3 linked regions of the Homo sapiens genome follow. The protein of the gene in region 2 purifies or fractionates together with the protein of the main gene of each other region. This does not show direct contact. Each region holds a gene or a part of one and is shown on either strand. Other genes may lie near its edges.

What was found.
Region 1: the proteins of GATD3 (region 2) and HMGCL fractionate together in Homo sapiens (co-fractionation; one large-scale study listed by BioGRID). This does not show direct contact.
Region 3: the proteins of GATD3 (region 2) and DBT purify together in Homo sapiens (affinity purification with mass spectrometry; 2 studies listed by BioGRID and IntAct, with this or other methods). This does not show direct contact.

What each region holds. Positions count from the first base shown.
Region 1 is NC_000001.11:23,811,812-23,815,459, forward strand, and holds part of HMGCL (hydroxymethylglutaryl-CoA lyase, mitochondrial isoform 1 precursor), read right to left. Parts: intron 2,528-3,648; coding exon 2,379-2,527; intron 1-2,378. UniProt on the Homo sapiens protein: Mitochondrial 3-hydroxy-3-methylglutaryl-CoA lyase that catalyzes a cation-dependent cleavage of (S)-3-hydroxy-3-methylglutaryl-CoA into acetyl-CoA and acetoacetate, a key step in ketogenesis. Terminal step in leucine catabolism.
Region 2 is NC_000021.9:44,136,584-44,140,231, reverse strand, and holds part of GATD3 (glutamine amidotransferase-like class 1 domain-containing protein 3, mitochondrial isoform 1 precursor), read right to left. Parts: intron 3,056-3,648; coding exon 2,936-3,055; intron 1-2,935.
Region 3 is NC_000001.11:100,208,204-100,211,851, forward strand, and holds part of DBT (lipoamide acyltransferase component of branched-chain alpha-keto acid dehydrogenase complex, mitochondrial isoform 1 precursor), read right to left. Parts: intron 2,922-3,648; exon of another isoform or gene 2,837-2,921; intron 2,569-2,836; coding exon 2,491-2,568; exon of another isoform or gene 2,490-2,490; intron 1-2,489. UniProt on the Homo sapiens protein: The branched-chain alpha-keto dehydrogenase complex catalyzes the overall conversion of alpha-keto acids to acyl-CoA and CO(2).

The sequences.
Region 1 (3,648 bases), on a different chromosome or scaffold from region 2:
TTGGGAGCTGTCTTTAAAACCCTTTAGAGTCAAGCAAATTCTGCATATTAAGAGGCATAATAAATGTTCAACAGATAAATAATTTCAGACTCAAAGATCTCAGTGTACTTTTCCATTTTGATGCTCCCACTTATTCTCCAACCACTGCTGAGCAAGAAAAAGGTAAGAGAGATGCTTAGAAAGACACAGATCTGGGAGTTGGGCCAATGTTACTGGAGCACCTGCTTCCCCATTCATCCACCTGCCCGTCAGTGACTGAGTGCCCACTGTGGCTAGGCCCCAAGCTGGGAGAGTGGAGCACCCCAGGGACTGGGAGAGATGTGGGCTTTGCCCTCATGGAGTGCACGGTCTAGTGGGGTGGGGCAGGGAGGGAATTTAACAAGCAGCTAAGTGCTACATTTAGAGGATGTCCCGACACCATGGGGTCCCAGAGAAGGGCACTAACTCCAGCTGAAGGACTGGAGCAGCTTCTCAGAGGAACTGACTCCCACAAGAAGACCTGAAGGATGAGCAGGAGTTATCCCCGAGAAGCATGATGTGGAGGAAGTGTTCTTTATTTTTTGGAGACAGAGTCTTACTCTTTCACCCATGCTGGTGTGCAGTGGCATGATTTTGGCTCACTTCAGCTTGGACCTCCCAGGCTCAGGTGATCTTCCCACCTTAGCCTCCTGAGTAGCTGGGACTACAGGCACATGCAACCACACCTGGCTTTTTTTTTGTAGAGCTGGGGTTTCACCATGTTGCCCAGGCCCAAGCCAGTCACAAACTCCTGGGCTGAAGCAACCTGCCCACCTTGGCCTCCCAAGGAAGGTTGTTCTGAGTCTAGAGAGAGCACGTGCAAAGGCCCAGAGGCAAGAGTGGAGGCATGTGACAAACAGAAAGAAGTTCCAGTTGGGCTGGAGTGTACCATGAAGAGGAAGCAGGGGCCAGAAGGGAACTTGAACGGTACGGCTACAGAAAAGAGCCGGGACCAAATCATGCAGGGTTTGTAAACCTCATTAAAAAGTCTGCACTTGATTAGTCACTGAAAGCTTTTTAACCAGGAGGGATGTGATCAGATGTGCACTTTTGTGGGGTTTTTTTGGTTTTTGTTTTTGAGACAGAGTCTCACTCTGTCACCTAGGCTGGAGTGCAGTGGCGTGATCTTGGCTCACTGCAACCTCTGCCTCCTGGGTTCAAGTGATTCTCCCGCCTCAGCCTCCTGAGTAGCTGGGATTACAGGTGCATGCCACTACGCCCGGCTAATTTTTGTATTTTTAGTAGAGATGGGGTTTCCCCATGTTGGCCAGGCTGGTTTCAAACTCCTTACCTCAGGTGATCTGCCCGCCTCGGCCTCCCAAAGTGCTGGGATTACAGGCATGAGCCACCATGTTCAGCCCAGATGTGCACTTTTCAACGATCATTCTGGCTGCAATGTTTTTTTTTTTTTTTTTTTTTTTTTGAGATGGAGTTTTGCTCTGTCACCCAGGCCGGAGTACAGTGGTGTGATCTCGGCTCACCACAACCTCCGCCTCCCAGATTCAAGTGATTCTCCTGCCTCAGCCTCCCAAGTAGATGGAATTACAGCTAATTTTTGTATTTTTAGTAAAGACGGGGTTTCTATCCACTACCACGCCCAGCTAATTTTTGTATTTTTAGTAGAGATGGGGTTTCACCATGTCGGCCAGGCTGGTCTTGAACTCTTGACCTCAGGTGATCCACCTGCCTTGTCCTCCCAAAGTGCTGGGATTACAGGTGTGAGCCACCATGCCCGGCCTCTGGCTGCAATTTGCACAGCAGTGTGACCTTACAGTAGAGTATTCGCCCTTCCTGGGCCTCGGTTTTGTAATTTATAAAGTGAGGATAACCTACTCCCTGCTGGGCTATTGTGAGGTTTCAATTATTATAGATAATACACACACAATGCCTGGAACCACTGATATTAGAGATGTGATGTTGGAAACATAGAAGCCTAGGTAATTCTCCAGGGATGTGTGAAGAGCTAGTGATAAAGCCAGGACTCAACTGACCTCCACAAACCCGTTAGTGTCCTGTCCTGCTAGATTCCTTTAGCATGATAGCAGTGGTGCTATCATGGCTCACTGCAGCCTCAAACTCCTGGTCTCAAGCCATCCTCTGCCTCAGTCTCCCAAGTTGCTAGGACTACAGGCGCATGCTATCATGGCTAGCTGGTAAACTGACCCAAAATTCAGGTTTGAGAGAAAGTACTTCCTAGGATTTCTTCTGACCACACTTATTTGGGAAAAGATGTCTAGGTGTGGAGCTCAGGCTGCCCCCACCCAGGATAAGAAGTTTGTGGCAGGAGGACCACTTGAGTCAGAGTCTAGCCCCATTCCAGAACGGTACAGAGGAAAGGATACCAATGTGCTCTGACTCACCCCCGCACAGAAATATTGGCTGACTGCGCTGCCTTCAGGATTGCGTCAAACCTCTGAAAACTCTCCTCTATGGAACAATTGATGTTCTTCTTGGTGAAGAGCTCTGAGGCAGCTCCAAAGATGACTACTTCCTTGGCTCCAGCAGCAACCTGCCAACATCCAGGTGAACTCCTTTCAGCACTTTTCTCTTTTTTTGTTTGAGATGGAGTCTTGCTTTGTTGCCCAGGCTGGAGTGCAGTGGCATGATCTCGGCTCACTGCAACCTCCACCTCCTGGGTTCAAGCGATTCTCCTGCCTCAGCCTCCTGAGTAGCTGGGATTACAGGAGCCCACCACCACGCCCGGCTAATTTTTGTATTTTTAGTAGAGACAGCGTTTCACCATGTTGGTCAGGCTGGTTTCGAACTCCTGACCTTGTGATCCACCCACCTCAGCCTCCCAAAGTGCTGAGATTACAGGTGTCAGCCATCATGCCCGGCCAGCACTTTTCTCTTTAAAGAACACTGACACAGAGTAGCAAAAAATTTCTCTTAAGGTAAATTTTATGTTATGTGAATGTTATGGGTTGAATTGTGTCCTCCTAAAAATATATGTTGAAGGATTAAAACCCAGCACCTCAGAATGTGACCTTATTTGGAAACAGCGTCATTGCAGATATCATTAGTTAAGATGAAGCCATACTGGAATAGGGTGGGCCCCTAATCCCATACGACTGGTGACCTTAAAAAAAGATGGCCAGCCGGGCGCAGTGGCTCACGCTTGTAATCACAGCACTTTGGGAGGCCGAGGCGGGCAGATCATGAGGTCAGGAGATCGAGACCATCCTGGCTAACACAGTGAAACCCCATCTCTACTAAAAATACAAAAAATTAGCCGGTCGTGGTGGCACACGCCTGTAGTCCCAGCTACTCGGGAGGCTGAGGTGGGAGAATCACTTGAACCTGGGAGGTGGAGCTTGCAGTGAGCCGAGATCATGCCACTGTACTCCAGCCTGGGCGACAGAGCAAGACTCTGTCTAAAAAAAACAAAAACAAAAGATGGCCAAGTGAAGACACAGAGACACAGAAAAGGTGGCCCTGGGAAAACGGAGGCAAAGACTGGAGAGATGCATCTACAAGCCAGGCAATGCCAAGGACTGCTGGCCACCACCAGACCCCAGCAGAGAGGCATAGGACAGATTCTCCCAGAGGCCTCAGAAGGAACCAATCCTGCTGACACCTTGATTTGGGACTTCTGGCCTCCAGACTGTGAGAGAATAAATTTCTGTTGTT
Region 2 (3,648 bases):
CCTCCTCAGACAGCCTCACAACCAGGGTCTATTCCTGGGGGGCTTCCTAGGCACAGCTCCAGACCCTCAGTCAGCTGCAGCAAGGGACATGGGCATGGCTGCACATATGCGCGTTTGATGTGAACATATTTTCCTGTTTTTTAAACAGAAATAAGCATAGGAAGCAGGAGGATCAGGAAGTGGTGCAGCAGGAGGCCACCAGGGCGAGAGGGCCCACGCCCTGGAACCTTCCGGAGCAGCTGGCAGAACCCGGGCTGCGGTGCTGAGACTCAGACGCTGGTTTCCGGCTCCTAACTCCCGTGCTGCTTGTTAGCTTTCTGTTACGACGTTGGCTGTGTCGGGCCTCGGGCAGCCTCTGACCTTCCCGCCTGCCCTTTACCTGCCCCAAAGCAGGACTCTAATGTTCCCCGCCTTTCTGACTGTGGGTCTCAGGACCCTCTCCTGAGAGGGTCCCCCACTCCCCGGGGGAGAATGCTGACGTCATGTTTCCCTGAGCACTGTGAGCCACGCCAGCAAACGGGGTTGTGGGAACCCCAACTTGAAGCCAATTGGTCAGTTCCAGAGGCTCAGACAGTTTACCGGTATGTGTCAGAGGGCAGTTTTGGGGACGGAGCCCTCAACCCGTGCGATCGGACGCTACCCCGGGTCCATACTGTTGGAACTGAATTAGAAGGCAGCAGCGACCCCTGCGTGGTGCATGGGGAAGACCCTTCACACCCACCTTCTGTGTGGACAACTGTTGTGGTGGGAGGAGGAGAAACACGGTGTGAGAGTTTTTCCTTAAAACAAAGGGGCAGCAGGAAACTCCAGGAGTTCCCAAAAAAAGAAACGCAGTCGGCCTCCAGGCATACCAAGCACTCTTGCTTCGATGACCGTGAAAGAAACGCCAGTTTACCTGCGACACCAGCATCCACACCTCAGGCCGAGGAGCAGGAGCTGTGGAGGGCACGCGGGGCAGGGGAGGTCTCTCCACACTGCCCATGGGGCGTGTGATCTGGCAATGCCACCAAATCTACAAGTGGACACACCTTCCCACGAACCCACCCCTGGGCTCTACGCCACCCTCACGCACCCCAGTCCTCTGCCCCAGCATTTTCCACATGGCTTTGCTGGCAGAGTGCTGGGAATCTTCTGGAGGCAGTGGGTGTTCGCCGTCCCCATGGGTGACTGTCTCAGAGGGTGCAGAGTGGCCACGGCTGCAGCTCATTAGAGCGCGCCGCACCATGGACACGCAGGGCAGGCTCACCCAGAACGCTCTGGACAGGTCAGTGAAAATGGGAGCTTCGCCCAGGGGACGTGGGCTCAGACACACGGGCACATCAGTCCCAGGGCCCATCAACACCTTGAAAGCCAAGGCCAAGACCCACTGACCCTGAGAACCACCACACACCTCACGCCTGTGCCTCTGGGTTGGCAAAATGTGGAGGAGCCATGCCAGGGCACGGAGCCCCCAGCACACCCTCCAGCTGCCCCTGCGCCCCGCCACACACGGTGTCAGTGGTCAGAGCCTCGTGGAGACGGCAGCGACGCAGGGACAACTGGACAAAAGATCGAGCCTGACGTGGGGCTGCGTGAGGTCAGGGGTGTGGGCGGCACCGACGAGGCTTGCTGGCTTTCAGGAGACCGGGGACGACAGGCTGGGGTGGGGCTTCCGGTGAGAGAGGGGTGAGGGCACGGCCAAGGGCACTGAGAAAACAGCTGGCATCTGAGGAAGGAGGCCTCTGAGGTTTCGGGATAAGGAGGGGCGCATTCTTCGGATGGAGACTGCCTACCCCTCGACTCTGGGTGCAGGCTGCCCAGGGTGGGGCAAGCGGCCAGCCAGCCTCCAACCTGCCCTTGAAACAGGAGCTGCCGACCGGGGCCGGCCGTGCTGGGGCTGCCACCCACACCATGGCACAGAAGCCACCTGCACGCTCCGATGCACTGTGGCCAGTGCTCCTGCAGGTGGCAGAGCTGTCCCTGGAGGGTCAGCCTGGCACCACCTCCACCTCTCAGGCAGGGCCATGGGGGCGGTGCCCAGAGAACCTCCATGAATGTGCAAAGAGAGAGAGGAGACACAGAGAACAGAAAGAGGATCTGGAACTCAAGGACGCCACCGTGTGGGAGCCAGCCAGGCCTCCATGATTCACGGTCCAGCTACCAAAACAGCCACGCCAAGGCGGCCTCCCTTCTTCCTGTCAGGACCGCCGCCCAAACTACCAAGAAGGAAACCCATTTCTGATCCTGCAAGGTTCCATAAGAGAATTGGGGCCAGGCGCGGTGGCTCAGGCCTGGAATCCCAGCACTTTGGGAGGCAGGAGGGTTACTCGAGCCCAGAAGTTCCAGACCAATTTGGGCTACATACATGGCCAAAAAAAAAAAAAAACAAAACCATGGGCATGGTGACATGCGCCTATAGTCTCGGCTACTCAGGAGGATGAGGCTGGAGGATGGCTTGAGCCCAGGAGATCATGGCTGCAGTGAACTAGGATCGTGCCACTGCATCCCTGCCTGGGCAACAGACCAAGACCTCATCTCTACAGAAAAAAAAAAAAAAAAAGAGAGAGAGAGAGAAAAAAAACTGGCACTTGCAAGGAGTAAATACTCAGAGACTGATTTCAACGTGACGAGACCTACAGCACAGTGATGAGATAAGAGGGAGCCCCAAACCCACTCTGACAAGCTGCTGGGTACCAGGAATGCTGAGAGAAGAGGCAGCAGAGAAGCAGAAACAAAAGCATGGCTCGCTACAACGCTACCTAAGACCCAACCCTAAGAACAGCTCCCAAGTCAGAGGGCAGGCACGTGCCCTGCCCAGACCCTAAACCCAGAGACTGCTCCTATCACCACCCCCTCCCATCGCCGCTCCACTGACCACATTGGACAGCAGACAGGTGCACCCCCTTCCCATCTGCTCCACATGGAAAGCGGAAGACCTTGGAGCTCAAATACGCACAGGTTTTTAGCCGCTCCAAAGCCTCCTGGAAAGATGGCAGCATCATGGTTGGCTGCACTGAGGTTGGCCAGGTCTGTGATTTTGCCACGGGCGATCCTCGCAGACTCGGTCAAAACATTCCTGGGAAAGAGCACAGGGCAAAAAGCCTCAGCATGCAGGTGAAGGACTGTGGAGCGCGGCAGGGGCACAGCCCACAGGCAACACGCTCCACACACGTGGCTCTCAGCCACACGGGGACTTACTTCCAGGTCAGCATGTTTGGTCACTACCTGGAAAGACAACATGGTTCTAGCAACGCTAAATCTATGCTGGGCTCTTCCGATCAGCACTTCAGAACCTGCGCCAAATCACTCTGAATCTTCTGCAGTCAAGGCCCATGGGAAATGGAAGTCTCTCCGAGTGTCTAAAGCAGACAGAATTCTGTGCACTCATCAGGACGGTGGGACTCAGAGGGGAAGGTAAGAAGCCAGGACTCAGGACCAGTGAAGCAACCCGAAGGCCAGCCACCGCAGGAAGCTGCTAGCCCCCAGGTGTGGGGGCCGAAGGTGCAAGTCCAGGTGCAGAAGCCAGGGTCCCAGGCAGGAAAAGAAATCACAGGGGTCCCCACTGGTGAGAAGCACAGCCCCAGGAGGCAGCTATGGCTTCTTCCTCGAATCTCCAGCTCCGACCTCTCGTGGTCCGAGGCCAGTTGGAAGGCACCTTGGAATGGCCTG
Region 3 (3,648 bases), on a different chromosome or scaffold from region 2:
AATTACCTTTAGGCTATGTGTATGAGGGGTAAATGAAACATAAGTGAATTTCATGTTTGCACTTGAGTCCTGTCCTCAAGATATCTCCTTTGTATATGCAAATATTCCATAATCCAAAAAAATCTTAAATCCAAAAACGCTTCTGGTCCCAAGCATTTCAGGTAACGGATACTTAAACTGTAGAGACTTTCTGGAGAACATATGACAACATGAACCAACATTTATAAAAATTCGTGTTAAGGAACTAAGTGCAGAAGTATGTAGGGATACACAGGGATGTTGAGTACACACTGTTTATAAGTTTGAGAAACTGCAAATAATCATGATGTTTATAAATAGGTCACTGGCTAAATAAATAACAAAGCTATACTTGTTGACAATGATGTCTACAATATAGTAAATGAAAATGAAGAGGCTGGGCACAGTGGCTCATGCCTGTAACCCAGCACTTTGGGAGGCTGAGGTGGGTGGATCACTTGAGCCCAGGAGTTAGAGACCAGCCTGGGCAACATGGCAAGACCCCATTTCTACAAAAAAAAAAAAAAAGTACAAAAATTAGCTGGGCATGGTGGCACGTGCCTATAGTCCCAGCTACTCAGAAGGCTGCGGTGGGAGGTGGACACTGCAGTGAGGCGATGATTACACCACAGCATAGATATTCTCTATGGGGAATACTTTAGATAGGCAACAGAGCAAGACTCTGTATCAAAAAAAAAAAAAAAAGAAAAAGAAAAAAGCAAGTTAAAGAAAATATAAATAATTCTATATCTTGTAAAAAGTATGTAAAAATGAAATCCTAGAAAGATGTATATCTCAACATAAACAGTGAGCTATCTTAGGGTCATGGAATTGAGGGTAAACATCTTTGTTTTCTTTTTTCTTTTCTTTTCTTTTCTTTTTTTTTTTTTGACAAAGGCAGGGTTTCACTTTGTCACCTAGGCTGGAGTGCAGTGGCATGATCACAACTCACTGCAACCTCCATCTCCCAGGTATCATATGATTCTCCTGCCTCAGCCTCCCAAGCAGCTAAAACTATAGGCATGCACCACCATGCCTGGCTAATTTTTTTTTTCTGTAGAGATGGGGCCTCCTAACTTTGTTGCCCATGCTGGTCTTGAATTCCTAGGCTCAAGCCATCCTCCTACCTCTGTCCCCCAAAGTGCTGGGATTACAGGCAGGAGCCACCACACCCGGCCAACATCATTTTCTTGCCTGAAATTTTTTTAATAAGTATATACTTAATCAGGAGATATTAAAATTAAAATTAATACAGCTGACTGTATTAACCGTATGGGAGCTGACCTCCCAGAATATCTAAGCTCACTTTCTGGTTGTACATGTCTTTTCTTTTTTTTCTTTTTTTAATTCTCTTTTTGAAATGGAGTTTTGCTCTTGTCGCCCACGCTGGAGTGCAGTGGCACAATCTTGGCTCACTGCAACCTCCGCCTCCTGGGTTCAAGCAATTCTCCCACCTCAGCCTCCTGAGTAGTTGGGACTATAGGCGCTGGCCACCACGGCTGGCTAATTTTTGTATTTTTAGTAGAGACAGGGTTTCACCATGTTGGCCAGGCTGGTCTCAAACTCCTGACCTCACATGATCCACCCGCCTCAGCCTCCCAAAGTGCTGGGATTATAGGCGTGAGCCACCGTGCCCAGCCTCTGGTTGTGCACTTCTAATGATAAGTAAACTTCAGGAAAGGCATCTCAAAAAGAGTTTTCGGTCTTAAGAAACTTTCACTACTCACAGAAGAGTTTACTCAAATTGAATTCAAACTTTTATTATTTTTCTCACTTAAATTATTCTTAATATTAAAATTCCAGGAATTTGCCAGGCACAGTGGTTCATGCCTGTAATCCCAGCACTTTGGGAGGCTGAGGCAGGAGGATTGCTTAGACCAGAAGTTCAAGACCAGCCTGGGCAACATAATGAGACCACGTCTCTACAAAAAATTTAAAAATTAGTTGGGCATAGTGGCGCATGCCTATAGTCCCAGCTACACAGGAGGCTGGGGCAGAAGGATTGCTTGGGCCTGAGAGGTTGAGGCTGCAGTGAGCCACAATCACAACACTGCATTCCAAACTGGTGACAGAGTGAGACTCTGCCAATAATAATAATAATAATAAGAAGAAGAAGAAGAAGAAGAATAAGAATAATAATATTAAAATTCCAGGAATTCAATTTTGAAAGAGCTGCTTCTTTTTGAGAGGGTAAGTAGAGTGGGTAACATAATCTGCCATACAGCTATGTATTTCCATTATTTTAAGCAGGAAAAAAAAAAGCTTAAAAATAGTTTTAAGAATCTCTAAACAGTATTATTAACACAAAAACAACAACAATGAATTAGACTTAAGTTTAATGTTTTACCCCATACCTTTAATTCTAGTCTAAAAAAGATCACTATTTGAGGTACAATAGAAGTCTCTAATCTACAAGCACATTTGCCCCATCTTCTATTAATAATAAGAACATTTTTACTCTGCATAGCCAACCTTATATGTTATATTCTGGCAGTTTTCATCCACAGAAGCGTTAAGGATAGGAAACTGTAGTAATCCCAAGGAAGCAGCCTGTTTAACAGAAAAAGAATGCAATTTTAGTACTTTTAACTTAGAAAGGATAGAGAATTTGAAACAATAAGAGGTATAAAAGGAGGGAGAGAGAGAACTCTTATTTATGCTGAGTTTAATTTCAAGTCTACATGTACCTAGTCACATTACTGCCAATGTTACCTTCAGGCCATGTGGAACTAGGTCACCCTAATCATTAAAGAATAAAAGATAAAGTAGTCAGGTAGCTTGTAAACATCAAGGAGATTTTCAAAATAATGATACAGACCAGCCAAAGTTCCAAAGAAAATGTCTAAATTCTAGGTGATTTCCTCACTGACATGTTGATCTTAAGATTTCCATGAGAAGTAATACTAGGAATCAAAACACAAAAAAAGCAGGTAAGCTATTTCTCTGTGTGGAAAGAACACGTAACGAGGATTTCAAAGCGCACTGACCAGTAGATGCCAGTTTGCTACTTGGTGTCCTTGGCCAGCTGAAGGGCAGAGATGTCCTGAACATTTACTTTACAGCTCAAGTCTCACTGAATAGCATTTATATTTTCCCTCTCTGCTGCCTTCTCCCTTTTGTCACTTAATACCATTTCTCTCCTGTCCATATTCAGATTTCCCTAACTGTACCCAAAATGTTCTTGATAATCTGTTTTTGGGATCTAATAATCAAGTTTCATACCTTACATGTGGTGGCCATGCATTGTATTGAATTTAAAAGATAGCAAAATAAAAATGCTTAAGATCATTCTTAAAAAGAATTCCCTCCCCCACTGCCCTTGTCTGGTCCCTGTTAAAGTTCTTTACATGCATTGTGTTATTCTTCTCAGTGCATCGGGGTCTTGATGGGAAAAAAATCAAATTCTTGAACTAGAGAGTTAAGAAAAAAGTTTAAATATATAGAGACATTTCATTTTCATTAGTTAGGACAGGTTAAGAGAGTAGATCAACTGAAGAAAAATATAATTAAAAGAACTGCTACGAGTTCCTTAATTTTTATGACTTGGAAGTTTTTCTTGTTTGTTTTTGAGACAGGGTCTTTCTTTGTCACCTAGGCTGCAGTGCAGTGGCATGATCTCAGCTCACTGTA